Homo sapiens: one gene and its partners. The protein of the gene in region 1 purifies or fractionates together with the protein of each later gene. This does not show direct contact. Each region holds a gene or a part of one and is shown in the gene's direction. Other genes may lie near its edges. The genes, in order: DCX, KLHL8, SPN, KLHL15, CEP63, CUL1 and CDK5RAP2.

Region 1 (4,225 bases):
GCAAGAAAGAAGTTTTAAGACATTAGCTTTGTTGGAATTTCCATATTTTCCTGCCCTTATTCCTTGATTTTTCTTTGCCTCTAGCCTGAATAATGTTGATTTTTCATGAGGTTGCCACAAGGTAAGGCAACAACACATGGAAGAAAACAGGGCAGACACATGCATTCCCCTGAGGTACTTGTATAGTAACCAAGAAATCAGCAGCAAGGTGTTGGGGGGACTTAACTAGGTAGGTTGCACATTTGAGGCTATCCACTCAACTAACAGACAGTTCCAGGCTTTGCTGAGTCAACACCTTTCACAGAAGAAAGACCATCATATATTTTATCCCACTTGGTGGCAGCTTACAATAAAACACATGCAGAGAAAATGCTTAAATATAAAAGTTCAACAGCACTATATAAAAGGAAGGGTTAATTATACTAGGAATCAGATATAAAATAATTACTGAGCATGCTCTTAGCTCTGAGCTTCCTGGAAGCCAAGCAAAAATAGAACCATGATAGTTCAAGGCTGCTACATATTGATGCATGTAGCTTCAATTGTGAAGATGGTAGCATCCCCCTACCCCATTTAACCTCTCACCTTTCTCTTTTGTTTTATAGTTCGGCCTGATCTAATTAGTTCAATTTGGATGCTTCCTTGAGTTTTTTTTGTAACATATTTTATATAAAGAAGTCAGTTAGTGACAAATAAGCAGTTTGAGGAGAAATCTGTTAATATTTATTTTGTAGCCATCAGATTTACTTCACATAGAAAGGTCTTTGGGTTGGGTTTGAACTTCCAAACTCTCAAAGGTAAATGCCACATTAACCTTTCATTAACCAAATTCTTACACCAAGCTGATAGATTTGGGATGTCCTTTTTACTTCTATCTTCCATAATATTCTAAAATTATTTTCCCTTGTTTTGTTCCTATCCTACTTCCTCTTAGTCTACTTTGTTGACTTCATTAAAAAACAAAAAACCAGTTGTTGGATACTTGAGCTAAACTGCCTTAAAGAATCTGCAGATTTTATTTTATTTTTTTTCTCTCAAGAGGGTAAAAGGAAGAGAGCTACAATTTCTAAGAAGCCTGGCTTGGCTGTCTGAGTCTGGCCCCCAGGCAGATTAGGCCAAGGTTTTGGCCAAGTGAAATTGCCAATTTTCTAAAAGAAAGGGCTAGCACATTGCTCATTAGAGCATTCTGATTTTGTCTGCGCAATCTTTTTGCTACCCCGCAATTTCCTGTTGGTTATAAATGAAACCTTTCTAGCTGTTAATGCAGCCTGTGAATTTTTTTAAAAGCATGTAATTAATCATAGGAGGTTGGGGGGATTCACTAAGCCTGAGTTACATGGGAGAAGCTGGACAAGGCACTAGGACCTAGAAGGCATCTATCCACCCTGGCAGGAATTTCTTGCTTGGAGCTCAGACAACAAAGGCATAGAGAGATTGGTTTTCTTTCTCTCAGCATCTCCACCCAACCAGCAGAAAACCGGTGAGTGGGGCTTTTAAGTGATTTTCAAGAAGAATGTAACAGATGTCAAACGGGAAAAGCACAAGGCAAAGCCTGCTCTCTCTGTCTCTCTGTCTCCTCTTCTCCTTTTTTGCCTTATTCTATCCGATTTTTTCCCTAAGCTTCTACCTGGGATTTTCCTTTGGAAAAGTGAGTTTGATGTTCCTTTGTTTTCACTGTGATGTTAATTTAGAATAATACTACCTCTGATCCTAAAGCAAAGCAAAGCCTTACTGGCATGCCTGGGGAAATGTTTGCTGCTTGCCTTGAGGAGGTGGGGTCTCTTACCACTGCAGGTTGTCTGACAGAGACAATGCTGAGCTCAGCATAGGTCATGGTGACATTGGAAAAAAGGCGGAATTGAGCCTGGCAGACCCATTAGGCACCAGTCTTTCTTATCTCCTGTCCTCCTGGTCCCTTGCAAATATATTGATGTGGCAGTGTGTAGCAGCTGAGCCCTGCTTGCTTTGTGAGTCCTTTTATCCCCATCTGTGAGATGCATGTTAATAGTTTGGCTCGTAGGATGTCACTACATTTGCTAGCATTTGTGGCTTCAGTTGTATTGGGTTTCATGTTTTGATTGTTTGGGGTTCTTGGTGGGGGAGGGGGTTCAACAGAAGGGAGAAAAGCAAAGCCTGACAAATGACCATCTTTTCTCAGCTAATGCACCTGGGCAATATACAAGTTTGGGGTGAATTGCCTGCTGTGAGGGTAAATGTCACTTCAATTAAGGTAGAAACCCAGAACAATGAAAGGTGTGCTTCCTTCTAAAGGTCCCGTATGCTGTTCGGAGAGTCATTTGTGAATCTTTCAACAATTAAATTATTCCATTAAGAGGTGTTGCTGCATCAGTGGGGAGGGGGTGGAGCACCTGGGGGGGAAAAAAAAGGATTTTGTGAACAAATGGAACCGGGGGAAGACAGAGCTAGTAACTTGTTAAATAACTTATTTTTCTAATCCTTTTTCCCCCCAGCTTATTTCTTATGAATGTCGGATAGCTGCACCAGCTTGGTGGGGAAAGGGTTTGATGAATAGCACAAAGACACTGGCTGTTCCCTGGAGGCTGTCCCTTTAAAGGAGAATCTTAGTTTATTCTGGGGGGAGGGGATGCACACATTAGAGTAGGAAAGAGGGCTTGGAATAAAATGAAAACACTCCCCCTTCATAGTCATTGTACTGAAATGCAAAGACTGCTTCCTAAGCTGGAGATGCTAACCTTGGGTAGCTCCTTCTGTTCTCTTCAAGGGGAATTTTGTCAGGCTATGGATTCATTTACAACTGTTAGTCATGTGGGCATGTGTGAGGAAACAGATGCCAGTTTTAATGTATTTAGCCCGAAGTTCCAATTTGATAGGAGCCACTGTCAGTAAGTCTCAGGATTTTCAGCTATTTCAAAATCTCCCCTTCTCCTCTGTCTGGAACAGTGCCAAGAGTGCCTCCCTCTCTATCTCTTACTCCCAACCCCCACAACCACCAGCACCCCCGCCCAGCCCCTCCTTCTTCTCTATTAAGATCAATATTCCTGCAGGTCAGGGGCAAGCAGCAGATGGGTCACAGGCTTTTTTCAACCAGTTCTTTTCACAAGCAGCAGATTGCAGATCTGGATCTGGCTAATATTTAAAATCCCTTCTTTTTTCCTTCTCCTTGTCCCTTTTTGTTTTTGCCTCTCTTCACCCCCATCCCTTTCTCCCACGCTCAGGTCTCTGAGGTTCCACCAAAATATGGAACTTGATTTTGGACACTTTGACGAAAGAGATAAGACATCCAGGAACATGCGAGGCTCCCGGATGAATGGGTTGCCTAGCCCCACTCACAGCGCCCACTGTAGCTTCTACCGAACCAGAACCTTGCAGGCACTGAGTAATGAGAAGAAAGCCAAGAAGGTACGTTTCTACCGCAATGGGGACCGCTACTTCAAGGGGATTGTGTACGCTGTGTCCTCTGACCGTTTTCGCAGCTTTGACGCCTTGCTGGCTGACCTGACGCGATCTCTGTCTGACAACATCAACCTGCCTCAGGGAGTGCGTTACATTTACACCATTGATGGATCCAGGAAGATCGGAAGCATGGATGAACTGGAGGAAGGTAATTTAAATAGTGGGTGGTGGCCGTTGGTGGGAGGTGGCATCATTGGTTATGGTTACATTCTTCGGTTGCTTTGAAAAAAAATTAGGCAATGTATTTTTCAAAACACCGGGTTGATTGATGCTCAAATTTCTAATGCTATAGACATCAACAGAACCATTAGCAATCACCCTTCAGTCTCTGCTGAGGTTGAAGTGTGAATGGTGGTGATCATGCATTGTGCTTATCTGCCAGGGTATAAAAAGGAAAATCTTAATTGTAGCATTTACTCTAGATTTTGTTCATAATTAACTCTGAGTAGCACTATTGAGGCAGAGCATGAAATCATTAAGGGTATAACGAGGAAGGACATTTGGTTGGGTTAACAGAGAAAATATTATGCCCAAATTTTCTTTGAACTGCTGAGAAATTATTTGTGAATTGCAACTCATTGGAAATATGCACCCTAAGAGCAGGATTTCCTGGACATATTCACAGAGGATTATTCTTTTAGGTAAGTGGTCGCGGCTCAGCTGTTGCTTCTAAAAAGCCTACTTTAGGGTGTGTCCCTAAGGCTGAGGTCATTGGGAGAAATACCAAAGAAAGCTGTAGGTATGTCTGGTATTTTAATAAAGACCATTCCTATTAGAATAGGATTTGACT
Region 2 (3,500 bases), on another chromosome or scaffold:
TGCAGTGAGCTGAGATTGCGCCGCTGCTCTCCAGCCTGGGCAACAGAGCAAGGCCTTGTCTCAAAAAAAAAAATTTTTTTTTAATTTTAAAGTATGTGTATATATATATATGAATATGATATGTGGTTAATTTGGAATATGAAAATTACCTGACTTTAAGAAACTGGCCTACTTGAAAGTAAGTGATCAAAGGATCGCCTTATAAAAAGATACTCTAAATTTGTCTGGAAATTTTGTCCCTGCTACAAACACATGTTAAATGCTGACCTGAAGCTGATTTTGATATTAAACAGAATCTTTCTTGGTTTCTTTTGAACAGGTTGGCTCAAAGCTAATCTCTTGTCACAAGCTGGTATTGGCTTGTGTTATTCCCTACTTTAGAGCCATGTTTCTTTCTGAAATGGCTGAAGCCAAGCAAACGCTGATTGAGATTAGAGATTTTGATGGTGATGCAATAGAAGACTTGGTAAAGTTTGTCTATTCTTCACGGCTCACTTTGACTGTTGACAATGTCCAGCCTCTCTTATATGCAGCCTGTATTCTGCAGGTTGAACTGGTGGCTAGAGCTTGTTGTGAATACATGAAGTTACATTTTCATCCCTCCAATTGCCTGGCAGTAAGAGCCTTTGCAGAAAGTCACAATCGAATAGACTTAATGGACATGGCGGATCAGTATGCCTGTGACCATTTTACTGAAGTAGTGGAGTGTGAAGACTTTGTAAGTGTATCACCGCAGCACCTCCATAAGCTTTTGTCCTCCAGTGATCTAAATATTGAAAATGAAAAGCAGGTCTATAATGCTGCCATCAAGTGGCTTCTTGCCAATCCTCAGCATCATTCCAAATGGTTGGATGAAACACTTGCACAGGTAGGAGCTGAAATAAGATTTCACACAGAAATGAAGTGATATGGAAGCAAATCAACATGCTTCATTTATTAGGAAAAGTGTAGATTATTTCAAGGAATATAGAAATTATTGATGTAATAAATAATAGAAATGGCTTTTAGCTCTCTAATTTTCCTGTTAACTTGCTGTGCTGTTTCAGGATGAATCTAAATTTGTCACATTTGAATTAGCAATATCATTCTCTGCTTTTAACCTGAATATTTAAAATATTCCTTTGGGATACTAATGATGAATATTTTATTTATGCCAATAGAAAATGGTTTGAAGAAATAGCTCTAAATTAATATACTTTATAATTATTGTTTTATAATGGTTTCTAAATTTTAATGAATTATTTTGCTAATAAAAGTATAGTTATTCCTAATGTGGATAGATTTATTATGTAAACAACCATAGGACATCACTTCTATTTTCTTCTCTCACCGTAGTTTGACTTTTTTTAAACCTCAGAAATGTGTCTCATTGTTACTGTTCTTATTTTTTACTGTCAATAGGAGTTACCAGGATAAGAAGATTATAGGCCCTTGTGATCTTTTTTTCTTTTGTCGTCTTCCTCTCCTTTCTCTCCCTTCCCTCCTTCCCTTCCTCCATTTTTTCCTTTCTTCATTTATTCCTGAGAAGTAAAATGACATTTTGCTACTTAAAAGAAGAGTGTTCTTATTTACTTATTTTTTCTAAATTAAATGCTTTGTTAAAACTTAGTGCTTGATAAAAGCACTCAGTGATAATTCTCGTGATTTTTAATAACAAAGTTTCCTAATAGCATTATCAGAAACTTAAACAAATAGTAAGAAGAATGAAGAAGAATGAAAGTGCTTATAATTACCAGTGTTCTCATTTTAGATATTTATAGGCAGATGAAGTAAACCTATTCAGAGTATGATGATAAGACATTTTTTCAAGTGCATATCACAATATTTATGCATTCATATGAGTATCAAAGTTCAGAACACATTTACATCTTCTCAGAATTATTTTGAAAGTAAGTTTGTCAGCAAAGCAAATAGAAAGTTTCATTATCTTGCAGCTATATCTTATTTGTGTATATGTGTTTTTCTTTAAGATGGTAAGGCAGATTTCGTTCAAGGGGGGCCATAACAATAGATACAGGGACTGCTGCAACGAAGTCTTGCAGTTGGGGAGAGAGACTGGACTCAACCCCTTACGTGTGTGTGTGCTTTTAACTCAAAATAGCATTACCTGGTTTCATCATCCCCTTTAATCCACTGGAAAATCAGTGTATCTTTAATAGAGGAATGGTGAATGCCTCTGTTGAAAGAGGGGATGCATCCCTAAGTTAGTATATTCCCTTCCAAGATCATTAATTTGAAGAAAACAACACTTGTTTCAGATATGAATTTTTACATTTTTAAGTAAGAAATCACATTTCCCTATGTTTAATCTTAGCTTAAAAAGGCAAAAGAACAAAGCACAGCACTTTTGTTTTGATTGTGCCTTTATCAATAGAAGGGCCTTGTGATTATGTCAGTACCGTTTTTGGAAGTAAGCAATTTGAATGAAGACAATTCAATTATAAAGCCTATTTAAACCGATATTTAAAGTGGGTGGATATAATTTAACGTGTAGTCTGATTGCATTTGAGCAGACCAGTACTGGAAATTGCTTATAATTTGGCACATTGAAAATCATGAACATGTTACATTTCATGAAGTAACAACTTAAGTTTTAAAAAGAGAACATGCTGCAGTAGAAGTGGAGAATTACTCATCTTGTTTTCACCTTTATTTGATACAATTTTTAGACTTTATATTTTCCCAAGAAAATATAAAATTTGTTGTATTGCAACTATTCATGATCTTAGGTTCGCCTGCCATTGTTGCCGGTTGATTTTCTTATGGGTGTTGTGGCAAAAGAACAGATTGTCAAGCAAAATCTAAAATGTAGAGATTTACTGGATGAAGCAAGAAATTACCACCTTCACTTGAGTAGCAGAGCAGTACCTGACTTTGAATACTCCATTCGGACTACCCCAAGGAAGCATACTGCTGGTAACCAAATTATTTTGTCAATTCTCCTGGAAGGATCTTTGTTGTATTTGAGGGTTGTTCATGTGTGCCCAAACTTAGTTGTAATATAATTAGTGTCTGATTGCCTTAAAGTAATAATTGGCAAATACGGTTTTATATATTTATAATTTTTACTGTACATTATTTAGTTTTACCAATAAGCCAGTTTTTTAAAAAGCCGTAATCAGTCCTGTATACTCTGAAGAGCCTACTGAAATATCTCTTCTTTTGAGATCTTTCCCGATTCTGAACTTGGTTTACTATGTTGCATTGTCATTTACTCATTTGACATGTCTTAAGTTCTTCAAAGACAGCTGAGTATCTTATTTAGGTTTCTATCCCTAGGGCCAAGCATGGAACTTGAAATATATTGTGCATCTAAATATTTGTTTTTTCATTTTACCAAATAAAAAGGGCACTAAACATAGCTAACATTTGTATAATGGGTTATATTAAACTCTTAGAGTCTAAAGCCCTTATATTTTAGGAGGCAGGCAGTTTCACCTTTATTTGATACAATTTTTAGACTTTATAATTTTTCCCAAGAAAATAGTTCATGTTCGCTT
Region 3 (2,223 bases), on another chromosome or scaffold:
TGGAGCAGTTCAATATAGAGTCTTTTTTGAACAAACGTGAAATAGATGTCTTTTTTTTTTTTTTGAGATGGAGTTTTCACTCTTGTTACCCAGGCTGGAGTGCAATGGCGTGATCTTGGCTCACCAGAACCTCCGCCTCCTGGGTTCAAACAATTCTCCTGCCTCAGCCTCCCAGGTAGCTGGGATTACAGGCATGCACCACCAAACCCGGATAATTTTGTATTTTTAGTAGAGATGGGGTTTCACCATGTTGGTCAAGCTGGTCTTGAACTCCCGACCTCTGCTGATCCGTATGCCTCGGCCTCCCAAAGTGCTGGGATTACATGCGTGAGCCACCGTGCCCGACAATAGATGTCTTTTAATTTTCTGGAGGAAAAAGCAAAGCAAAAGAAGCAGTGGATATTTTAAGACTAAAAAGGAAAACAAAAAAAGGAGATAGAGCAGGCCAGACGTGGTGGCTCAACGTCTGTAATCCCAGCACTTTGGGAGGCCGAGGCAGGTGGATCACCTGAGGTCAGGAGTTCAAGACCAGCCTGACCAACATGGTGAAACCCTGTTTCAAAATACAAAAAATTAGCTGGGCGTGGTGGCGGGCACCTGTAATCCCAGCTACTTGGGAGGCTGAGGCAGGAGAATCCCTTGAACCCAGGAGGTGGAGGTTGCAGTGAGCCGAGATCACGCCATTGCACTCCAGCCTGGGCGACAAGTAAAAAACTCCATCTCAAAAAAAAAAAAGGAGATAGAGCAAGGAACAGTAAGAAAATAGTTGGGTGCAGTGGCTATGCGGTGGCACTATAGGAGGCTGAGGCGGGCAGATCACCTGAGGTCAGGAGTTGGAGACCAGCCTGGGCAACATAGACCCCTATCTCTACAAAAAATTTGAAATATGAAAAATTAGCCAGGTGTAGTGGTGTGCGCCTGTGGTACCAGCTACTCAAGAGGCGAAGGCAGGGAAGATTGCTTGAGCCCAGGAGTTTGAGGCTATAGTGAGCTGTGATCATGCCACTGCACTCCAGCCTGGGCAATAGTGTGAGACTCTGTCTCAAAAGAAAGAACATGGCCAGGCGTGGTGGCTCACACCTGTAATCCCAGCACTTTGGGAGGCCGAGGCAGTCAGATCATGAGGCCAGTTTGAAACCAGCCTGGCCAACATGGTGAAACCCTGTCTCTACTAAAAATACAAAAATTAGCCAGGCGTGGTGGCATGCCCCCGTAATCCCAGCTACTTGGGGGTCTGAGGCAGAAGAATTGCTTGAAACCGGGAGGCAGAGGTTGCAGTGAGCCGAGATCGTGTCATTGCACTCTAGTCTGGGCGACAGAGCAAGACTCCGTCTTGGAAAAAAATTTAAAAAAAGAAAATATAAAATATGGTATAAGATTAAATATATTAGTTATGAAAATAATTGTAAATGGCTTATTGAACTTATAGTCAGTAAAAATCATGTTTTTGAAAATTATGTAATGACTTTGGAAAATACCAGCAATATAATGTTAAGTGGGGAAAAAAGCAAGTTACTCCTCTGTAATACATATGATTTTAGTTTTGTAATAAAAATTCCCAACCATATATGCACTTATAGGGAAACAAAGGACCCATCGCAAATGTTTTCCATGCTGATCTCCAAAGTGGTGAGTTTATGTGTGATTTTTATTTTGTTTATGCTCTTCTGTATTTTCCGAATTTCATACAATAAATATCTGTTACTTTTACAATATGAAAAAATAGTGGTCAAAAAGGTGTTCAAGGGGGTGGCCTGGGGGTGTCTGGTTTGAGGAGAGTGGTAGGGGATGAGGCTGCAAGTGGAGGTTGGAGCCATGCTATGAAAAGTTCAAGAGTTTGAATTGAGTTCTGAGGTTTGTTTTTGTTTTTGTTTTTGTTTTTTGAGACGGAGTCTCACCCTGTCACCCAGGCTGGAGTGCAGTGGCACGGGTTCATGCCATTCTCCTGCCTCAGCCTCCTGAGTAGCTGGAACCACACGCGCCCGCCACCACACCAGGCTAATTTTTTTGTATTTTTAGGAGAGACAGGGTTTCACCATGTTAGCCAGGATGGTCTCGATCTCCTGACCTCGTGATCCACCTGCCTCGGCCTCCCAAAGTGCTGGGATTACAGGCGTGAGCCACAGTGCTCTGCGTGAGCCATAGTGCTCTGCTGAGAGTTTGAATTGCATTCTGGAAGTAGTGGTGAAATCAACACACCTAAGTCTGCTCTTCTCCTCTCTT
Region 4 (3,500 bases), about 87 Mb from region 1:
CCTCCTACGAAGTGCTAACTGCTTATTTAAATAACGGTATTCTTTAATTCAAATGTAACGTTACCGTAGGGGCTTTGCTTTTCATCGTTCTAGGCCGCTTTAGGCCCCTTTTCTTACTCCAAATATTTAACACCTTACATTTGTTAGTCTTTTCTGTTTTCCGAATTTGTTTGCCTTTGTTAATCTGATTAAGTGGTAATTTAGAAAATGCTTTGCAGACATATATGCCCTAATTTTAATGCCTGTTTTTCATATCTAGGGAGCAGGATGCTTGAATACTTCTACTAATTTGAAAATTGGTTTTGAAGAGCTTATCAATGCATTCATGTTTCAGTAATCCTTAATAGATCTAGAAATGTATAGAACATTTCAACTTTTTAGCACTTAATGTAATTATATAATTTTATTCTCATTTTTAATCACAACACGTAGTAGGTGCTTAGAGTCACAGTTTATCAGTGGTAGAGGATGTTAACTTGCACTCTTCATTGCTGATTAATTTGGGGAAAGAATAGGATAGTAAATATTTGTGGTTTGAAAATTGAATTTATTTTGCCAGGATTTATATGTGTAACAGATTAGTATTGATCATTTTTACTTGGCATATCAAAAATATAGTATGGTTTGGCTTAAATGGTCCACAAAAAGTGAAAAGAGAAGCATTTTTGGGTATATTGTTATTTTTAGCTAACAAATGGTTTTGAGTAGTTAGATGTTTTATTAAATTTATAATCCTCTAGTCCAATACCAGTTGTCTTTCAGAGTATGCTTTTGTGTTTTGTAAAAAGGCAAAATAATAGAAGTTGGGCAGGATTTACATAGTAAAAGGAAGAGCCTACTTCAAAGTGGCTGGTTTTATAGATTGGATTTATCACTAATCTTGATAAAATTTTGACAAATCATTGCTTTATTGGGGATTTCAAGGTTTGACCTTCTCTCTACCTCGAGTCGGGTTATCTCAGAAACCTAACCTTGATCAGGGCAGGCTTGGCTTCATGGATGTTCAGAAGGGCCCCACACTTGGTTTAATAATCTGCATGTAAAACTGGGATTGTACAGTATAAGGGTGAATGGTAAAATTCATGCTAATTTAAATTTTTAATTTTCCTTTACTCAGAACGACATTAAACATCAAATTTAAAAAACACTGAGAGCCGGGAGCGGTGGCTCAGGCCTGTAATCCCAGCACTTTGGGAGGCCGAGGCGGGCGGATCACCTGAGGGTCGGGAGTTTGAGACCAGCCTAACCAACGTGGAGAAACCCCGTCTCTACTAAAAACACAAAGTTAGCCTGGCGTGGTGGCGGGCGCCTGTAATCCCAGCTACTCTATTCCCAGCTACTCGGGAGGCTGAGGCGGGAGAATCGCTTGAACCCGGTAGGCAGAAGTTGCGGTAATCCAAGATGGCGGCACTGCACTCCAGCCTGGGCGACGAGAGCAAAACTCCGTCTCAAAAAAAAAAAAAACCGCGAAACAGTTGAGAGATACAGAAGAAAGTTTTGAAAGAGCTTTACATTTTATTACCTTTAACGACTTTTTTTTTTTTTTTAAGACAAGAGTCTTGTTCTGTCGCCCAGGCTGGAGTGGAGTGGTGCGATCCGATCCCCGCTCATTGGAACCTCCACCTCCCGGCCTCAAGCGATTCTTGGGCCTCAGCCTACTAAGTAGCTGGGATTATAGGCGCTCGCCACCACGCCCGGCTAATTTTTGTATTTTTAGTAGAGACGGGGTTTCACCATGTTGGCCAGGCTGGTCTCGAACTCCTGGACTCAAGTGATCTACCCGCCTTGGCTTCCCAAAGCGCAGGCGGGAGCCACCGTGCCCAGCCTTTTTTTTTTTTTTTTTTTATCTTTTGAGACACAGTCTTGCTCTGTCTCCCAGGCCGGAGTGCAGTGGCGCGATCTCGGCTCACTGCAACCTCCGCCTCCCGGGTTCAAGTGATTCTCCTGCCTCAGCCTCCCGAGTAACTGGGATTACAGATGCGCGTCAGCATGCTTGACTAATTTTTGTATTTTTAGTAGACACGGGGTTTCACCATGTTAGCCAGGCTGGTCTCGACTGACTTCAAGTGATCCGCCCGCCTCGGTCTCCCAAAGTGCTGGGATTACAGACATGAGCCACCGCGCCCGGCCATCGCCCAGCCTTTTAACAACATTTTTCCCTGATTTTGAACAAGAGTCCCCGCAAATGATGTAGGTGGCCTGTTGTCAAGCCTGGCCTTTCCCAGTGCAAATGTTTTGAGAGTGAATAATGTTAACTGTGAGGAGAATGAATCTTTAGCTTAGAGGAGGTGGATTACTTTATTAGCATCTATTTTCTCTGAATTGGAGTGCTATAGCTCATGTGGTGCTTTTTTTTTTTTATTGAAGAGAAATGAAAGATGGAGCCATGGGTGAGGCATTGTAGAACAGTGTTTAATAGGGGAGGCTATGAAGTCAGGCAGACCCCAACTTCACAACTTACTAATAATTATAGCCTTGGGCAAGTTACTTAACCTCTGTGAGCTTTGATGTTCTCATCTTTAAGTCGGGGATGGATACAAAACATGGAAGGTTGCGAGAATTAAATTTATCTGTCTTTCCAACAAATATTTATTAAGCACTTATTATGTGCCAAGCACTGTTTTAGGTGCTGGAGATGCAACAGTCAGTGAAGCAAAACCGACAAATTGAAGCAGAAAGGAAACTAAGTAAAATGGATAGCCTGTATTGCCATTTAATATACTGCAGAGAATAATAAAGTGGAGGGGCATGGGGATTGTCAGGTTGATGGGGCAGATGGGGTTTTGCAACTTTAAAAGAGGGTGTTTGAGGAAGGCCTCACTGAAATGACACCAAAGACCCTAAGGGAACCATATATATCTGGGGATAGTGTGATCCAGGCAGAGGGAACAGGGTGTAGAGAGGCCTTAAGTTGGGAGTGTAGCTGGTTTTCAAGGAACAGCGGCACCAAGGGAGATAGTAATATAAGATTATTATTATTGCCATTTTAAGAATCATTGGAAAGGCTCTCATAGTTCATCTCTGCCAAGGGTATATGTTGTATTGCTGCTGGTCCAAAAGTGGAAGACCTTTTCAGAATTTGAAATTTTAACTTTGCAAGTAAGAAATTAGGAAAGACAAAATATGTTGTCAGGTTTTCTGTTTTTAACGTAAGACCCTTAAAGCTCATCAGGCTCAATCACTGAAACATGTAAGAATGGATAGAAAAAAATACCCTTTGTCTCTGATAAGATCTTTGAATTTAGTTAATGATATATATTATAGACTAATGATTTGCAGGAAATCTGTATCATAACAGCAAGACTTTCCAAAATATTTAGTTTGGTTGTATAATTCTTATGAGGAACTGAAAGGCTAACATTACAGTATTTGTGATTTCATGTTAGAATAGAACTTAGAAGATTTGGGGTTTTATTCCCCAATAGAGGCTTTTCCTAGAATTCTCACTGGATCCAATCTCTAAAGGCTAGGGAAGCTGTTTTCCATGACATCACTCTTGG
Region 5 (3,500 bases), on another chromosome or scaffold:
TATGTAAAAGATAAAATTGCTTTTAACATGAACTGTTAACCTTTAGGCAAACAACAAGAGAAATATCATTTTACACTTTTTAGGTTATCTTTAAGTAATACATTTTTTGTTTTTACATTTATTTCTGGTTTTGGAAACCAGTAAGTATTTTCTTACTTTTATCTACATGTTAAATACACAAACATGCATACACACACATATTTTCTGCTTTATTCCTTTTGGAATACTTGGAGTACTTGAGATAGTCTTTGTTATTATTGAAGTATATGTGTACTCTTCCGTTTGACTAAAATTAAGTTTATTATTTTTGACGTTGGGACAACAGTTTACATTTTTATCACAGTTTTTTTATTGATTGGCTTTTTAGTAATATTTTAAATGACTGAGGTGATGTTTAAGATATTGGCTGGATATTTTTTGGATATCAAGAATGTAAATTAGATAGTCCAATTTATAGGTTTCAGGATTTTGGTTTTAAGTATGGGATCTTATTTTTGTCATACAGTTTGGAATCTGTGAGTGCAACGTGTAAACAGCTGAGCCAAGAACTAATGGAAAAATATGAAGAACTGAAGAGGATGGAAGCACATAACAATGAATACAAAGCAGAGATTAAGAAGGTAAAAATCTGCATACCTAGGATTGCAAAATTGTATGTGTTTATGGACAAAGCTGTGGATTGGGAGATTATAGGGGTTATTTTTAATGAGAAAAAAATGTAGTTCAAGGGACCACTTGATATTTAGGAGTGGAAGAGTTTGTGGAATGTGCATAGGGAAAGTGCCTTCTTTCTTTGGCATCGCCCCTGATGCCCAATAAATATTTTTAAGATAATTGAAGGCTGTCCCCTTTGAACTCAAAAACTTTATTTTAAACATGTTTTGATGAAAAGTTTTCTAAAAGACATACACTCTGTTGCTTGCAAAAAAATATGAACTGTCACTTAATATTTTCTTATTGCCTAAAGATAGTATTTATGTATTGTCTCCTGTGCTATGATGTAGTTAGTATCCTTGTCAGCTATTGAGGTATGCAGAGCTGTTTGTGTCTATATGAATGGGCCCTAACTGTCCTATTTGTTTGATTTGTATTTTTTGTTACTTCTTTAAGATTACTTCTAGTTCCTTACTTCCTCTTGTTCTATTTGTTATCCTGTGGACTAAGATACCATATGAGCAAAACTTTTAGATTCACAACTAAAAAAAAGAATGAAGGTCACAAGTACTCTCCTCTAAATTGTGTGCATGGACCTTGATTCTGGTCCTCAGCACTTGAATAACCCATCTCTCCCTGTTTTGAGGTATAATAAATGATTGTAGGTATAACCACCTGACCTTCAGTACAGATATGCAACTTGGTAAATTGCTAATTTTTCTGCAGATTTAATTTAAGAGAAATTTAATGTCTTGAGATAAGGTGAACTTTTATTTTATTAGCTAGTAACATATTATTCTATCTAAATGCTTTCTCTTAACTTTTGGTGCTTTCTTTTCTGCTTCTTTATAGTTGAAAGAACAGATTTTACAGGGTGAACAAAGTTACAGTTCTGCACTAGAAGGAATGAAGATGGAAATCTCCCATCTAACTCAGGAGTTACATCAGCGAGATATCACTATTGCTTCCACCAAAGGTTCTTCCTCAGACATGGAAAAGCGACTCAGAGCAGAGATGCAAAAGGCAGAAGACAAAGCAGTAGAGCATAAGGTGAAGCCTGAACAAAACCTTTTTTAAATTTGAAATTTGTTTTAAAGATGGAGTTGATTAAAGACATAATTTTCATAATATTTAATTCAGTGAATTTTTATTAGATACCTGCTTTGAGCTGAGAGTATGCTGGCTAGCAAAGAGTTTAGTGAGCATGGTGGGGAGGTGAGAGTAGACACAGACAAGTAAAGTGACTGTATCAGTGGTGTATGGTGAGAGTCACTAGAGATCACAAGCAGCCTGAATCTAGACCACTCGCTGCAAAGGCCTTCCAGAAGGTGTGATAGCAAAGCTAAGTTAGGAGCAAGCTGGGTGATGGGGAGGAAAAGTGTTTCAGGCACAGGAAAATACAGAGGTCTCTAAGAGAGAGTAGAAACACGCTTGCTGTGGTTGAAACTAGAGTACAAGTGGGATGAGTGGAAGGTATGAGACTGGAAAGCAGGGACTGGCTGCTGAAGGGCTACGTTAGCCACGTAAAGGAGTTATACTGTGACCTTGAGGTCAGTAGGGAATGGCTGCAAGCAGGAGTAAAATTCAGTGGTCCTTAAATGGAGAATAAGCAGGGAGACAGAGCACCCAGATGCTGTTACAGTGGTAAGATGGTGGCCTGAGCAGTGGGCAAGGGAGGCAGAGGGAAATGGATGAATTCTGGAGATACTGGGCTGGTAAAAATGACTGGGCATTGTATTTGATTGGCAGGGAAGGTGAGGTAGGCAGAGTTAAGGAATGGTGCTCCACAGGATTTAAACTTAGGCAACTGATGGAAAGTGATGCTTTTTAATGAAATAGAGAAAAGACAGGGAGCAAGTTTGGTGAAGGATGATGAATTTGTGTGAAAAGTACACAGACTGGGGAAACTGGTGGAGAGGACATTGGTTTGACACATTTGTTTGGAATAAAGGCTGGAATTTTGTATGGGTAATAGTCAATTCCACAGAAGGCCTGGAGTTGAAGATTAAAATCAGGATTAGGCATTTAGCTGTGGCTGTCCTTTCTTCATGGTGACATTTGAAACCCCCTGAGAGACTTAATGATTATAGTGAGAAAGCATAGCGTAAGAAGAGAAGTGACTCAAACCAAACTTAGGATACTTCTCATTTAGTGTAAAAAAGATGTTGGAATGAAGCTTAAAAAAAGGAGCAGTGAGGAGGGAAATCAGATAGTTTTTGCCAAGCCAAGGAAAGAAGGAATATTTTCAAATGGGAATGGTCAAGCACAAAAGCTGAGGGGAATGAGAACTGAATATAAGTTGTTATTTTGTGAATAAAGTACAATTCCATGTGACGTTGCAGGTAGAAGCCAAATTGGAGGAGGCCAGCACAGGAGAATGGGTAGGGATTTAAGGGGTTCAGTGGATTGAAACTTTGCTGCTTTGTCACCTGATTTATCCTATTAGAATGATATCTTCATCCCATTCATGTTCATTCACCTTAATAACATCTTAAAAATCTTTTTAGAAAGTCCATATATATATATATATATATATATATATATACACACACACACGTACATATATATATGTATATATATATATAAATATGTATATGTATATATATATAAATGAAGAATATGACTTAGCCTAATGAAAATTCCATGTGGAAAAATTTTGTAAGATGCATGTGATTTACATGTTATATTTATTTTTTTCTGTTTTCCCCTTTTCAGGAGATTTTGGATCAGCTGGAGTCACTCAAATTAGAAAATCGTCATCTTTCTGAAATGGTGATGAAATTGGAATTGGGTTTACATGAGGTACATAAATAGAAACTTAAGTTTTTCTACTATCCAAGCCTTCA
Region 6 (3,500 bases), on another chromosome or scaffold:
AAGTTGGAGACACCTCTTCAGAGTTTCTGTGGTGGCTGATTCGTTTTATATGAATTAGGGGGTCTTGTTTATAAAGCAGTCTTGTAGAAAAGACCTGTACAAAAATTCATCTACCTTTAATTCACCTTTGAATTATTATTTGTTCATAGAATGAATCAGTTGTTAAAGGACAATCATCTCTTGTATATACAACTACAGAGGGCAGCAGTTTAGTAGGAATTTAAACCCCTTCATCATCTTTAATGACTGGGCCATGAAAGGGAATCTATGTGCCTTTTTATTTCTCCAAAGTTAAATTACAGCAGACTAGAAAGCAATTGGTAAAGTGAATTTCCTTTACTGAAGTTTAAGTGGATTATCTTAAAGGCAAACTTCTTCAGAATGTTTTTGGAAATGTTTTATAAATATCTCCTGTTGGTTTTCACCTTGGATATTCTAAATGACTACTTCATAATCTGTTCTTCAGTGTTGAGGTTACAGTATGAGATTGCCAGTTTGCTGTAGGTAAGGAAAGTCAACCTTCCCTCTTCCTCTGCACTAATCTGATGAGAACTGATCTTTTGAATGCTTGAAGCTGCATTCTGGCTAAGTGGTGCTTGTTTAAACGTACTGATGTTTTAAAACATGGTATCTTTTTAAAATTTTCAGTTCCAAGAACCCAGAGGAGGCAGAACTAGAAGACACACTCAATCAAGTGGTAAGTGCTTCATGAGCATACCCATTTCCAGTAGCTGTGTATTTCACAAGCTGTTTGTAATGTTATTTGTAGATGGCCTCTGAAATGTGAAAAGTAATAATCATTGATTTTATTTTGAATCTCTGGTTTTACTTCCTAAATTGAGTTACTACTTTTAGCATTCATACTTTTCTCATTAATACTCAGTCAGTCCAACTCACTGAATTAAGGGACTCACAAAACTTTCAAGACTCTGGAGTGGAGATTTTGCCATCATAAACGTTGGCGTACAGACCTGCCCAAAGCCAAAGGCACATCTTGGCTCCTGGCTTGTGGCCGGTGACAGTCAGCTCTGCACTGTTGGCTTGTGTGTGTGCTGGTTAAGTGTGTTGTCTCGGTGGCTTTGCCAGATGGTTGTCTTCAAGTACATAGAAGACAAAGACGTATTTCAGAAGTTCTATGCGAAGATGCTCGCCAAGAGGCTCGTCCACCAGAACAGTGCAAGTGACGATGCCGAAGCCAGCATGATCTCCAAGTTAAAGGTGAGTTTCATCTTTTCCTGAAAAATCCCAGCTTCTGAGTCATTATTAAAACAGCTCTATGGCCGAGCGCGGTGGCTCATGCCTGTAATCCCAGCACTTTGGGAGGCCGAGGCGGGCAGATCACGAGGTCAGGAGATCGAGACCATCCTGGCTAATATGGAGAAACCCCATCTCTGCTAAAAATACAAAACATTAGCCGGGCATGGTGGTGGGCGCCTGTAGTCCCAGCTACTTGGGAGGCTGAGGCAGGAGAATGGCATGAACCCGGGAGGCAGAGGTTGCGGTGAGCCGAGATCACACCACTACACTCCAGCCTGGGCAACAGAGTGAGACTCTGTCTCAGAAAAAAATAAAAAAGCTCTTAGTCTCTCCAGGTTATGAGGCAGGCAGAGGAGTTTGTGCAGTGGTTTGTACAAGAAGCTCTGCCACTGCTCTTCTGAAAGCCTCCCACAACTATCACTCTACTCTCGTTGGGCCCCGGTGCCTTCCCAACCCCTTCCCCACCCCACTGTGGGGCTTCCATCCTACCCAGGCCTGGCTGGGCTCAGCTCACCATCTGTGGGGCCTCTCCTGCCTCCCACACCTTTAGCCTTGCAGCACATTCACACTTCCACACTGTGCTGGCCTGGAGCTGAGTGGAGGTTTTGTTTGCTCTGGGCTTGGTTACTTTGCTGTCACGCAGCCCTTCCTCTGCCACCTCCTTTGCGTGCCTGTGTGTCGGCGCTGTCGAGTGCTCTTATCTGACTTGGGACATACTTTACTTTGGCCCCAAATTATGTAGGTATCTTTGTCAGCGTGGGCTGCCATGACGGAATACCATAGACCAGGTAGCTTAAACAACAGAAATAGTTTCTCACAATTCTGGGGGCCACAAGTCCGAGATCAGGGTGCCAGCTGATTCGGTTCCTGGTGCAGGCCCTCTTCCTGCTTTGTAGGCAGCCACCTTCTTGCAGTGCCTCACGTGTCAGAGAGAGAGTGCAGAGCTCTTGCACATCTCTTACAAGCACACCAATCCCATTGTGAGGCCCCATGCTCAAGACCGCATACCTCCACACAGCATCACGTTGGAGGTTTGGGCTTCAACATAGGGATTTTGGGGGCACACAGTTCAGCTTCTGGTAAGAGATAGAGACAGATTATTTCATCATTGTATTCTACCAGTGTCAGGACACCTTGCTCTTAAATGCTCACAAATTGTGTATGAATTGTGTGTGTGAACACTTCACTGTGCAACATAGAGTTGTGGGGTTTTTTGACAGTGTATTAATATTAATCCATGCATATTTGTACTGTAAAATATAGCAAAATGTTACTAGCTTTGCTAGTAGTTCCATATAATTAAGTATATATTGTATACTCTGATTTCTCTAAGATTCCCTTGTATACATTTGTATTTTTGTACAAATTAATAAGACAGTCATCTGGGTTCTTCTCAGCAAGCTTGCGGGTTCGAGTACACCTCTAAACTTCAGCGCATGTTTCAAGACATTGGCGTGAGCAAAGATCTGAACGAGCAATTCAAAAAGCACTTGACAAACTCAGAACCCCTAGACTGTGAGTATCCGTGTGTCTCTATGTTGTGTTTACAGGCAGAGTTCTCTGTAGCAAATGAAGAAATGACAAAATATTAGGTGAAGATGGGAGGGGCTTTGTCAGAAATTCAAGAACTAAGAAGCGGGAGATTCCTCCCAAATGCCCAGCCCTCCTCCCCCGACTCCCGTGTGACATTAGGAGATGACAACCCTTGAAGTGGTGTCAGCTCTACTGGGGCAAGGTCACCACCTGTTGGGATCTGGGGAGGGACTCACAGGCGTGGTTTTGTCTTGTAAACCTTAGCTTGGATCCATTCTAGCATTTATTTTAATGTTCACTTGGCCTGCATAGGTAACAGTCAAGCTAAAGACCTGTGGCTTCAGACTGGGATTAGGGATCAGTACAGGCAGGTGCAGGTGATTCAGTTCTCCAGGAGAGGCAGCTGGGCTGGTATTTTAGGGCCTTGCATAGTAGTAGGATGGCGGATTTATGCTTACATCATCTTTTGATCATCTTTGTCTTTTTAAATGAAAAATGGAGAATTTTATTTTTCCCAAATCAGAATGACAATTCTATTGTAAAACTGGACAGTTTTGCCAGTGGGCTTTTTAACTATCTGCGAAGATGAAATTACTGTTATAATTTATAGACCATGTGTGGCGTTTCCCAGTAATAAGTGAAACATACACTATAATGAAGTTAGCGGTTTTCTCCTGCTTGTGAGTTTGCATGAGTCTGGGGCTGTGATG
Region 7 (3,396 bases), on another chromosome or scaffold:
TCTTTTGTCACTAACTGTGATCATTTTTTGATATCAATGCATAGAGCTCTACAACGTCATTTTTAATAGTTGCTAAATTATTGTATTATATGTAAGTACCATAATTTATCCAGATCTATACTGAAATCAGGTTATTTTTTCCTACCATGAACAATGCTGAGACGAACATCCTTGTACATAGGCATCTTCTTGTGCTTATGTTATTATTCCTTGGGGGAAATGCCAGCGTGTAGAATTGCTGGGGCAAAGAGTTAAGCGCATCTCAGTTTGGTAGATCTTGCCAGGGCGTTCTCACTGGGCCATGCCATCCCGCACTTCCACCAGAGGTCACGAGGTGCTTTCCCCTTACCCTCAATGAGTTTTGTCCAATTTTGCCTTTTCCTGGTTGTCAGGAAAAGGCTTCTAGTTTCCATTCAAATATTTTTGCTAGTGAGGTTGAGCATCATCTTTTTATATGGCTTTGTAATTCTTCCTGTGTAACATGATGTTTATGTTCTTTGTTCATTTTTCTAATTTCTCTTCTCTTTAGATTGGAGAAATGAAGGCAGAGGTCACCAAACTACATAAAAAATTGTTTGAACAAGAAAAGAAGTTGCAAAACACCATGAAGCTTTTGCAGCTGAGCAAGCGCCAGGAAAAAGTCATCTTTGATCAATGTGAGTGAGTGTGGGGGTGGCCGCTATGCCTGACCACTTCCTGCCTCCGAGGGCTCCCAGTTCTGCCCTGGATTACCCACTTTGGAGCCCAGATGGTTTGTAATCATGCCTCCTATCTGTGGGCTTCTTTTCATACTCCATCCTTTCTGACTCACATAGACAAATGTATTCACTTAACACACCTTTGTAGAGCGGCCTTTTGGTGTCAGGGACTGTCGTCTCACTGGGAGACAGTCGTGTGGCATGTGCAGTGATGGGAACATGCAGAGCACTGGGGTGGGAGTTGGGTGGCCGTCACTCTGTCCCGGCAAGGTGGGCGTCTTAGACAAAGTGACCACCTCGCTGAGTGTGAAATGAAAGCAGACGTCGTCACATGGAGCGGGGAGTGGCAGTCCCTCAGGGAAGAGCATGGACAGAGGCACAAAGGCAGGAAATAAGTTTTTGTATGTGAGAAACCAAAACCAGTCCCTGTGGGGTAAAGGCTGCAAACAGTGAATTAAGGTGGGAGGGATTGGGGGTCAGGGAGTACTTCATGAAAGACTGTAGGTGGCAGGCTCAGGGCAGAGGATTGGCCTGTCACATCTGTGTGCAAGAATGGCTCGCTGGTGGCTGCTCCACCAGTGAGGGGGAGGCTGACTCACTAGTCAGACAGGAAAGGTGGCTAGGACGCTGGGGATCCAGAGGAGGGCATGGATTTGAGAAATACTTCTCAAGGCAGATGCCGAGACTCAGGGTTGGTGAGGTTAAGTAACTTTTGTAAGGTCAGTCCCAGTTCTGATCTAGCCACTTTGGAGATTGTTTGGGAGCAGCTCTGTCTCCTGGTTTAAACCCTCAGCACTCCCTCCCGCTGCATTTAGAGGAGCAGGCGGTAGCTGAGTTTCCATTAGTGCCTGTTGGCAACATGGCCCTGGCCAAGCCTGCGCTGTCTGTGTGTCAGTTTCCCTGTCTTAAGAGAACTGCTGACTGCAGCACTTTTTCTCTGGAGGTGCCAGCCTGCCTTGTGCGGCTCTCCTGTCAAAGTCCAACATTTCTGGGGCATTTCTGAGAAGCACAGGACAGAGATTATTGCCAAGTAGGAGTTCTCCTTAGCCACCCCTGGGAACCTTCTGAAAATAGACTCTGTGAGACTGCCAGTGTTTGGACTGCAAAAGAGAGGAGCGCAGCCACTGAGCAGGCACTGAGTTCCTGTTCTTTGCCCCTTACGCCAGGTCCTGGGGACAGAGATGAACGAGACAGTCTTTGCCAGTGAGGGTCGTGGGCTTAATAGGGGAGACACAGAGCTTAGCTGCAGGACGATGTGCTGAGTGCATCCTAGGAGGCCTGAGAGGTGGTTCAAGACTGACTGGGTCTTGAAGAATGACTAGGAATTTGTCAGCGAAGGGGCAGGAATAGGATTCTGGCAGATGGCCCTGTGGACTTGCTGGTGTGCTCCCAGGGGTGAGAGAGAACTGAGTGCTCAGGGACATGCTTAGGACGTGCAAAGGGTTTTCCTCTGAGAGATGAGTGAGAGGGAGAAGCAGGAACCAGGTTGCAAGGAGCCTTGTGGACAGGACTCCAGGACGAGCAGCAGGGACCGGCGGGGTCCATGCGTGTATTACAAGATCCCATGGCTGAGCTTGGAGGGGCCAGGAGGCCGGGAAGACCTCTTTGGGGGCTGCAGCAGTCCCCCAGGTGGGCAGTGGGTCAGGACTGTGGGGGAGAAGGGATGGTTTTGAAAGATTGTAAGGAGGTCAACCTGGCAGAGTGGTGGATGTCTGTGGGGTTCTGGTTGAGGGTTTCGTGTCACTCGTAGAGAAAAAGAGCACTGAGGGGAACCTGGAGAGAGACAGTGCCAGCTGTGGTCCTGTTAAGGCAGCTGTGGAATATTTAGGTTAGACTCTTGGAGCAGCAGTGGGGTGGGGAGCAATGCTCTGCATAGGTCTAGAGAAAGGCAGAACTCTCTGCATTGGCATCTCTCCTCCTCAGCAGCCTTTGGCCCTGAACAGTCACAGGGCAGGTAGCTAACCCTATTGACAGGTGAGAAAATTGCAGAAGTAGGTTTCGATGGGTTGAGTACTGTGGTCGGTCAAAAGGACAGAACTAGAACCCAGATCCCCTGTGTCCTAGGTCAGAGAACATGGAATTATTGATTGAGCACAGTTCAGATCTCCATTCTCCTATGTGACCTGCATTAGACTAGAACCCTAAGCTTTCGATTCCTCATCTCTAACTGGAGACGTGAGTTCCAAAGGACTCAGACTAACTAGTTGGTCCCGGGTTCAATAGCAACTTTATAAAAAGCACCCCAGTTTTCTCATCTGTAAAATAAGGATGATAACGCTACCTAAACTGTATTGTACTTAGCACAGTCTCGGGGGCAGAGGAGATGCTCAACCAGTCCCTCCTCTTTCTTTCCATTAGGCCAGACCAAATCCTATGCATGGAGGTGGCAAATCATTCATAGTAAGAAGAGCCGCAAATGTCTCATAGCACTTCCCCTCCTGAGCTGGTATTGTCCATCTCCATATCTCCTAGGCCTGGCACAGAGCAGGCTCCGCCAGAGCAGGGTGAGGGGCTTGCTCCAGGCAGCATAGCTGGTGGCTGACCCGGGCCTGCAACTCCTCCTTTGCCAGGCTCTGCAGCTCATCCCAAGGAGTCAGGTCCTTGGAAATTCTCCAAGCCCTGCGGACTTCACAGACCTGCTCTGGGTCTAAAGGGACTAGGAGAAAGTTGGCATAGCACCTCCTCTTCCTCCGTCCCC

What was found.
Region 2: the proteins of DCX (region 1) and KLHL8 purify together in Homo sapiens (affinity purification with mass spectrometry; one large-scale study listed by BioGRID and IntAct). This does not show direct contact.
Region 3: the proteins of DCX (region 1) and SPN purify together in Homo sapiens (affinity purification with western blotting, with the first as the bait; one study listed by BioGRID). This does not show direct contact.
Region 4: the proteins of DCX (region 1) and KLHL15 purify together in Homo sapiens (affinity purification with western blotting; one study listed by BioGRID). This does not show direct contact.
Region 5: the proteins of DCX (region 1) and CEP63 purify together in Homo sapiens (co-immunoprecipitation; one large-scale study listed by IntAct). This does not show direct contact.
Region 6: the proteins of DCX (region 1) and CUL1 purify together in Homo sapiens (affinity purification with mass spectrometry; 2 studies listed by BioGRID and IntAct, with this or other methods). This does not show direct contact.
Region 7: the proteins of DCX (region 1) and CDK5RAP2 purify together in Homo sapiens (co-immunoprecipitation; one large-scale study listed by IntAct). This does not show direct contact.

The regions. Positions count from the first base shown.
Region 1 is NC_000023.11:111,409,393-111,413,617, reverse strand, and holds the start of DCX (neuronal migration protein doublecortin), read left to right. Parts: upstream 1-1,425; 5' UTR 1,426-1,480; exon of another isoform or gene 1,481-1,648; intron 1,649-2,471; exon of another isoform or gene 2,472-2,643; coding exon of another isoform or gene 2,644-2,864; intron 2,865-3,197; coding exon of another isoform or gene 3,198-3,219; coding exon 3,220-3,583; intron 3,584-4,225. UniProt on the Homo sapiens protein: Microtubule-associated protein required for initial steps of neuronal dispersion and cortex lamination during cerebral cortex development. May act by competing with the putative neuronal protein kinase DCLK1 in binding to a target protein.
Region 2 is NC_000004.12:87,182,619-87,186,118, reverse strand, and holds part of KLHL8 (kelch-like protein 8), read left to right. Parts: intron 1-319; coding exon 320-868; intron 869-2,729; coding exon 2,730-2,916; intron 2,917-3,500. UniProt on the Homo sapiens protein: Substrate-specific adapter of a BCR (BTB-CUL3-RBX1) E3 ubiquitin ligase complex required for The BCR(KLHL8) ubiquitin ligase complex mediates ubiquitination and degradation of RAPSN.
Region 3 is NC_000016.10:29,669,154-29,671,376, forward strand, and holds the end of SPN (leukosialin precursor), read left to right. Parts: 3' UTR 1-1,723; downstream 1,724-2,223. UniProt on the Homo sapiens protein: Predominant cell surface sialoprotein of leukocytes which regulates multiple T-cell functions, including T-cell activation, proliferation, differentiation, trafficking and migration.
Region 4 is NC_000023.11:24,020,687-24,024,186, reverse strand, and holds part of KLHL15 (kelch-like protein 15), read left to right. Parts: intron 1-3,500. UniProt on the Homo sapiens protein: Substrate-specific adapter for CUL3 E3 ubiquitin-protein ligase complex.
Region 5 is NC_000003.12:134,548,557-134,552,056, forward strand, and holds part of CEP63 (centrosomal protein of 63 kDa), read left to right. Parts: intron 1-505; coding exon 506-620; intron 621-1,506; coding exon 1,507-1,704; intron 1,705-3,369; coding exon 3,370-3,456; intron 3,457-3,500. UniProt on the Homo sapiens protein: Required for normal spindle assembly.
Region 6 is NC_000007.14:148,785,903-148,789,402, forward strand, and holds part of CUL1 (cullin-1), read left to right. Parts: intron 1-648; coding exon 649-697; intron 698-1,086; coding exon 1,087-1,218; intron 1,219-2,654; coding exon 2,655-2,772; intron 2,773-3,500. UniProt on the Homo sapiens protein: Core component of multiple cullin-RING-based SCF (SKP1-CUL1-F-box protein) E3 ubiquitin-protein ligase complexes, which mediate the ubiquitination of proteins involved in cell cycle progression, signal transduction and transcription.
Region 7 is NC_000009.12:120,391,772-120,395,167, reverse strand, and holds part of CDK5RAP2 (CDK5 regulatory subunit-associated protein 2), read left to right. Parts: intron 1-529; coding exon 530-656; intron 657-3,396. UniProt on the Homo sapiens protein: Potential regulator of CDK5 activity via its interaction with CDK5R1. Negative regulator of centriole disengagement (licensing) which maintains centriole engagement and cohesion. Involved in regulation of mitotic spindle orientation.